Linked DNA regions of Homo sapiens. The protein of the gene in region 2 interacts with the protein of the main gene of each other region in a pairwise test. Each region holds a gene or a part of one and is shown on either strand. Other genes may lie near its edges.

What was found.
Region 1: the proteins of LRMDA (region 2) and RAB32 interact in a two-hybrid assay, tested with the Homo sapiens proteins (one large-scale study listed by BioGRID).

The regions. Positions count from the first base shown.
Region 1 is NC_000006.12:146,550,323-146,554,146, reverse strand, and holds part of RAB32 (ras-related protein Rab-32), read right to left. Parts: intron 1-3,824. UniProt on the Homo sapiens protein: The small GTPases Rab are key regulators of intracellular membrane trafficking, from the formation of transport vesicles to their fusion with membranes.
Region 2 is NC_000010.11:75,434,517-75,438,340, reverse strand, and holds part of LRMDA (leucine-rich melanocyte differentiation-associated protein), read right to left. Parts: intron 1-3,824. UniProt on the Homo sapiens protein: Required for melanocyte differentiation.

The DNA.
Region 1 (3,824 bases), on a different chromosome or scaffold from region 2:
AATGAAGACATTCCAAATAAAAAAATTCCTGCCCTTGAATATCTAATTCAAGCAGTCAGGATACACTGTGAAAAAAACTGAAAGGGCTCAAACAACATTAAAATGTGATAAATGTATCATGTCATTTTTCCATCTCTAAGTACCAATTATTCCTTTTAGTTGTCATGTATAAATTAGCCTGAAACAATGTTGTCAGTGCAATGTCCATTAAGGACACCCTAAGGAATTATTAGCCGTCACAGCATTTGTGCGACTGAATTATAAGTTATCATTAAATATACAGTAGGTAACACATTGCAAAAACTGTGCTTATTTTTAAATATATTTAACTGTTCATTTTTAAATAATTTTGGATTTACAAAAACATTGCAAAAAAAGTAAACATTCCTACCATTCACACATATTTCTCAAATGTTAACATCTTAGATAACCAGAATACAACTATCAAAATCAGGAAATTACATAATAGTGTTGTATCAGTGCTAGCCTAAAAAGCTTACTCAAATTGCATCAATTATCTCAATGCCCTATTTCAGATCCAGGATCATAAGCTATATTTCACTGTTGTCGCCCTGGTCTCTTTTACTCTCGAACAGTTCCTCACTCTCCTTGCTTTTCATGACCTTGACACTCTCAGAGAGCACTGGCCGGTGAATATACCTCCATCTGTGATGTTCGATGTTTCCTTATCATTAAATTCAACGTATGTATTTTTGGCAGAAATAAAACACAAGTGATGTACCCTGCACAGTTTATCAGGAAGCACACTGCTTCAAGTTGTTTTTGCCATGTTTCTCCACAGAAAAGTTATTATTTTTCCCTTTGTACTTAGTGCAAATATGTAAATATCCTGTTTCTCACCGCACTTTTCCCCACTAATGTTATCATCAATTAATTCCTCCCTACAACAATCATCACTGTGGTGTTTAATGGTGACTTTTTTATTTCTGCCATTCCTTCTACATTTATTAGCTGGAATTCTACTGTTAGAAAGAGGTTCCACACATGTATACATACGTGACTAACCTGCACGTTGTGCACATGTACCCTAAAACTTAAAAGTATAATAAAAAAATAAAAATAAAAAAAGAAAGAGGTTCCCTTCTCCCCCATTTCTTTATTCATTTGTTCATTTTTATCATGGATTATTAGTTTACTCTATAAGTTGAACCCATTACAGTAATTATTTAGTTTGTTGCTCAAATTGTCTTACATGTTTGGAGCTTGTATGGCAGTATCCTGTATCTTTGTCACATGTCCCCATCATTTTGTAAGCATTTCCTTAGTTTCTTGCACAACAAAATATCTCAGGCACATCTTTACTTGACTTGTTCCACCCGTCCTAAAATCAGGCATTTCTCTAGAGATTCCCATTCTTTTTACTGGAGAATGATATTTAAAAACCGAATTTTGAGCACGAGGTAAGTTAATTGGTTCTGTGGTGTCATTCCTTTTAAGCCCTCTCAGCAGGTATGGCTAGTAAATAAACGTATGTATACACACATGCATCTGTATCAACTTCTTTATCTGTTTACACATATGTGTGTGTACATACATATATCTATACACACTCACATATATATATGCATATACTCTTACACACACACACATATGAAACCTGAAGCTCATATTAATGTCTAATCCAATCCAATGCTATGAGGTTCATTGTAGCCTTTTTCCTTATTTGTAAACCCTTTCTCAGACAACAAGAAACCTAAAACAGCTGTGCTATTTACAGGCATCTTTCATAGCACTGAAACAAGCTTTTTATTTATTTTTTACCTCCACTCCCAAGATAAGTGTTAACTTTAATTCAAGTATTGATCTTTTGAATGTCCAAGTGACATTCAGTCCCAGCTATCCCCATTATATCAAATAATTATAAAATTCTCTAACTGTATTTGGAAGCAGTTGGTTAAAATTCCAATGATAGTGTAACTAGTCACATGTTAATGTAATTCCCATATGTTAATATTATTAAAGTTTCATATTAGAAATCCATTATTTGCCATAAAGGTGAAATGATGAAATTTATTTGCAAAAGTTATCTTTTGCCTATGTTCCTAGTGAAATTCGGATGACTGCAATTCAAGCAAAAGTCAGATCTGAAGTTAGCTGCAGGCCAGCTCAGAAGTGTACCTTAGTGACATTTAGGCAGTACTTTAAGCCTTAACTCTAAGATTTTTAACCTAAATTTTTTTATTACTGTTATTCTCTTGGAACACGTCTGGTTTACTGCTAAGGAAATTCTACAGAAGCTGCTTCTATTATATTTGTATGGAAGCACAGAGCAAACTTGAAACTTGTACTCTTAACCAGCGTTTCACCTTTCACCTCTGCGTGTAATCCTATCCATACATAAAGTGAAACCGATGACTTACACAGTCACAAGCTACTAGTCACATGACGTCTTACATCTGGGGGCAAATCTGGATTTACTATCTGAAAGATTAAATAGAGCCTAAAGGGGAATTTTGTCTATCATTTATAAAACTCCTCCACCAAAATGCACACTCGCATAAGCAGTTATACTTACTGCCCCTTTTTTTTTTTTCGTCTTTTTACAGCAAAGCTGGCAAGTAGAGCAAATCACCCAATAGGCATACAGAGCAGACAGAGGGCATGAGTGTCCAGAAGAACACGCCTGTAATCCTAGTGCTTTGGGAGGCTGAGGCAGGCAGATCACTCCAGCTCAGGAGTTTGAGTCCAGCCTGGGCAACACGGCAAAATTCTGTCTCTACTAAAAATGCAAAAAGTAGCTGGGCATGGTGGCACATGCCTGTGGTCCTAGCTTCTTGGGAGAATGAGGTGACTTCTCTATAAGAAGGCTTTCTTTCTGTGATTTTCTCCTTCGTGTCAGATTAAGTGCTCACATAGCACTCCTGGGCTTCATCTTTCTTCTATCACTATGTTTTATTTATGAAAGGAAATTTTAAGATGCTATATTTATTCAAACAATTAGCCTCTAGCTTAGGAGTGTACATTTCTGCCTGCAGTAGACAGTCTTTTTTTTCCCAGTGACTCCATCATTGCGCAATATTTTTGGAGCGGTCTCCTTTTGTGCAGTCTCTCATTGCTTCGCTTTTATCCCGCAGATCATCATTGGCATCAAGTAGTTTTTCACTCTAAGGGTAAGTTTCTAGTAGAGCTAAACCTAATCTGATTAGTAAATATCCAGAATGAGGTGGGTGATTTGGAGGAACAATCATACATACATACATATATAAAAACACCCGTAAACACACACAAGAAATCCACAGAACATAAACTAAAAGCTAGAACTGTGTTATGATTTCAACAAATTTATGGTATAATGTTTATCTGTCATCACAGAATTTTTCAAACATTTCATCATTCTTACATAAATCTGATTGTCACTAACCCCCTTATGTGAAAGTTCCAATGCACGTAACCCCCCCCCCAAACATTTTATATATGTATAATTTTCACCTTTTTTCTATATCTAGACTATTAAGATTTTTTTTTTTTTGAGATGGGGTCTCACTTTGTCACCCAGGCTGGAGTGCAGTGGCATGATCTCGGCTCACTGCAACCTCTGCCTCCCAGACTCAAGTGATCCTCCTGCCTTAGCCTCCCGAGAAGCTAGGACCACAGGCATGCACCACCATGCTCAGCTACTTTGTGTATTTTTGGCAGAGACAGGGTTTCGCCACGTTGCCCAGGCTGGTCTCGAACTCCCAGTTCAAGCGATCTGCCCGATCCATCTGCCTCGGCCTCCCAGACTGCTAGGATTACAGGCATGAGCCACCGTGCCTGGTCACTAGACTGTTAAGATTTTTGAAAGTCAACTGAGTGTTTTATTT
Region 2 (3,824 bases):
TCCCAACCCTGAAATTACTGATCCAATGATTGCTTCTGCAACTTGAAACACATGTTTCTCACACACAAAAAGGCCACACTTGTGACTGTTTCCCTGATCAAATCAGCTTTGGGGGCTCCAAGGACTCCACCAACAGCTCCCCTTTCCTGGTGCAGTTAACATGATGAAGACTAATCCCAGGACAATGGAAATTGGACTAAAATTGGCCAGATTCAGGTGTCCAAAAGAAACCTGAATATCAGGGCACATTGATATAACCGCAACAATCGCCCTCTCACTCAGGGGCTTTTGCAACAGTTGCTCCTCTGCCCCTTCTTCTCCCTCTCCTCCACTGCCCTCCAGTACCCTGGTATGCACATTACCTCATAAAAGACACAGCAGATGCACTTACCAGCATCCAACCTTCAGGGTGCTGGAACAAATAGGGTTGGAAAAGAAAACCTCCCCAGACCACAAATCCCATCCAGTTGCCACTGTGTACAAAATGCCCTCCACACCCAAACAAAGCTGATTTGAAGGCAACAGGGCAACAATGTGTGTCCGGGGCTCCTGAATGTCCCTCCTCCAGAGGCCCTTTGGCAGTCAATCCCACTCTGTGCACAAAGCTGTTTCTTTGGGCATTCTTCTATTTATTACAGATTATTTATTATTAAGTACCTGTATGTGCCCAAATATTAAAAAGCTGAACTGAACTGAATCTGAACTGATTCCAGAACCTGTGAGAAGGTCAGTGGACTTTCTCACTACCCTAATCACCCAGTTTTTGGAACCCATTTTTACAGACAGCACTCTGTGGGCAGATTGGCAACTAATCCTCAAACCATAAAATAAACCCATGAGGCCGAGTTGACCAGTGGGCCACAATGCATGCTGTTTCCCTAAAATACAACATGCTCAACCCCCAGCTTGAAATTCAAGCCCAAGACACGGCTATAACCTTCTTCTGGTTTCCCTACAAATCACATTCTTCCACACATATAGACAAAGATCTCTTAGAATGAGAGAGAGAGAGACTCCCCAGGAGGGTGTTTCCTCATGGGAAACAAGACTATGGTGGCCATCTTACATCCTCAGATATTAGGTTCAACTATGTGAACTACCAATATCCAACCATTTTAGAACCACAAAATAGCTCTTTTACATGGTGCAACCTAATACAAGCTGCACTGAACCCTGACACCCTCAACATCTCCAGTCATCTCTCAACCTTCTCCTATCCAATGAGGACAAACTGCTGACAATGCAATATCCTATATCCACTCTCCTTCAGTAACTTCATTCTAGGAGGAGAGAAAATAAGGAGAAAGGATAGAAAAATAGCTGACTCCAATAAAGTAATTTTGACTCAAGAAGATATAGGCTAAAAAATAAAGGACTCTAAGTTCAATCTAGCAATCTCTCCTCTTTCTACCTGGGGTCCATCTTTCTTCACAGTTCCTTGTGTAATAAATTAAGTTCTGCTTCCAAGCTGAGACAGAAATCATATGCCAAAGAGAGACTGTGGCTATAAGGCCCTATTCTATCTGGGGACTTCGATTTCCCTCAGGATCTCTGCTCAGTCAGCAGCTTCTTGGCCAGGCGCGGTGGCTCATGCCTGTAGTCCCAGCACTTTGGGAAGCCGAGGTGGGAGGATCATGAGGTCAGGGGATCGACACCATCCTGACTAACATGGTGAAACCCCATCTCTACTAAAAATACAAAAAATATTAGCCGGGCATGGTGGGGAGTGCCTGTAGTCCCAGCTACTCAGGAGGCTAGGGTAGGAGAATGGTGTGAACCCTGGAGGCGGAGCTTGCAGTGAGCCGAGATTGCACCACTGCACTCCAGCCTGGGCGACAGAGCCAGACTTGTCTCAAAAAAAAAAAAAAATTCAGCAGCTTCTTCTGTATTGTACGTTCACAATGAACCCCAGGTCCATGGCGCTCACCAGAAAATCCATCCCATTCACCCCAGCCTGCACTACTGTCTTGCACATATTATCAGTCAAGACCTCTGTGATATATATAGCAGAGACGTTGAGTTTTAGATGCAGAAACTGGGCTCTTTCCTCTTAGAATGGCCAAGGACTAAATCTAATAGACACCCAGTTTGTCAAAACTTCTGATGTTTTATACAAGGAAACTAAGACTCCAGAGCCCTGCCCAGCACAATACAGCTTCTTAGTGATAGAGCCCAGATCAAGTCCTATGCCATAAATAAGGACTTCCAACTTGGGGGCCATGGAGTGCTTACAAATCCATGTGTGGGTGTGAGATTTCTCTCTCTCTTTTTTTTTTTTTTTTTTAAAGAGATGGGGTTTCACTGTGTTGCTCAGGCTGATCTCAAACTCTGAACTCAAACAATCCCCTCGCCTCAGCCTCCTAAAATAGCTGGAATTGCAGATACAAGCCACCATACCAGGCAGACATGAGTTTTCTTGATCAGCAAATGCCAGTGGTGCATCTATCATCATGTTTTGGCTTCAAAATGAGTCTTCTGAGCTGAAAGGGCAAGAACTTCTCCCACGGTGCTACACTGAGGACCCAAGAAGAGTGTTAGAGCCTGGGAAAAGAGAGGGATATTTGCTTCCCTTTTTCTTCTGTAGGAATTCCATTCAAAGGAAACAGGAGCACCAAGGAGAGCTATCATAAAGCATTTGGATCACTCACAACATCTGATGAGACTGTCAGCAGCCTGTTTCAGTACATGGTCTTAACTATACAACATCCCAGGAAGACTAAGAAAAATACAAGTTGTTCTCACTGTTCTCAAATGTGAAGACCAAGTCTCAAAAGTTTAGCATGAGAACCAACTCGATAAGTAATCTGCATGCTTAGATAACTCCTGTGGTAAAGTAGAAGCTTTTAGAGATGTGAGTTAAGCCGACCAGGCTGAAGGGCTCAAATCAGCTGGAAAAGGCTTAAAAGCAGCAAGCAGCCACTGCCAGACATTGCAAGCAATGCTTGAAACTAGAAAAAAGACTTAAGAAGTGCTTCTGAGGGAAGACATTACCTCTCAGGATGTCAGGAAGCTTCTTAGAGCACAGGACCACCTAATGTAAGATTCAAGGCCAGAAGAGCCAAACCAAAAATAGTTTGCTTCTTCAGCAAAAGGGAGACGGGATACAGAGATTAATAGATCTTAAATGGCACAGAAGCAAGAGCATATCCAGAACACCATTGCATTTAGTCAATTACCTTGACTTAGACTGCATTGAGGAACAAAGATTCAAACTTATAATTTCTCTATTTTCTATAATTTGTACCCTAAGACCTCCACCCTGTGTGGAATAACAGGAAGGGACACCATTACCAGGCAAATGAAAATATAACAAGTTAAAGACCCCTACGGAGAAGAAACTAGAAAGGGAAAGGAGAGTGTCTGGAAGGGGTCCCCACCTATGTACACACCCAATCCCTCCAAGCCGAAGCTGCAGAAAATAACCAAACTGCAGAAGACTGCAGGTTTCACTTTGCGTTGGGACTCTCTGGCTCCCAGGGCATTTCTGGAGATGATGAGTTTGTCAACAGTCAGATGTTGAGGAGATTATTTTTTGATGCCTACCCCTAGCCAGGGGTGGGAGATCCTCGATTTTAAATTTGTAATACTGAGCTGGGCACAGTGGTGCACACCTGTATTCCCAGCTACTCAGGAGGCTGAGGCAGGAAGACTGCCTGAGCTCAGGAGTTCAAGGCTGCAGTGAGCTATGATTGCGCTACTGCATGTCAGCCTGGGCAACAGAGCAAGACCTTATCATTCATTCATAAATAAATAAGTGTATGTGTGGTACTGGAAGCTGTCGGAGTAGAAACAACCATAGGTACAAATCTGATTCCCGGTACTGC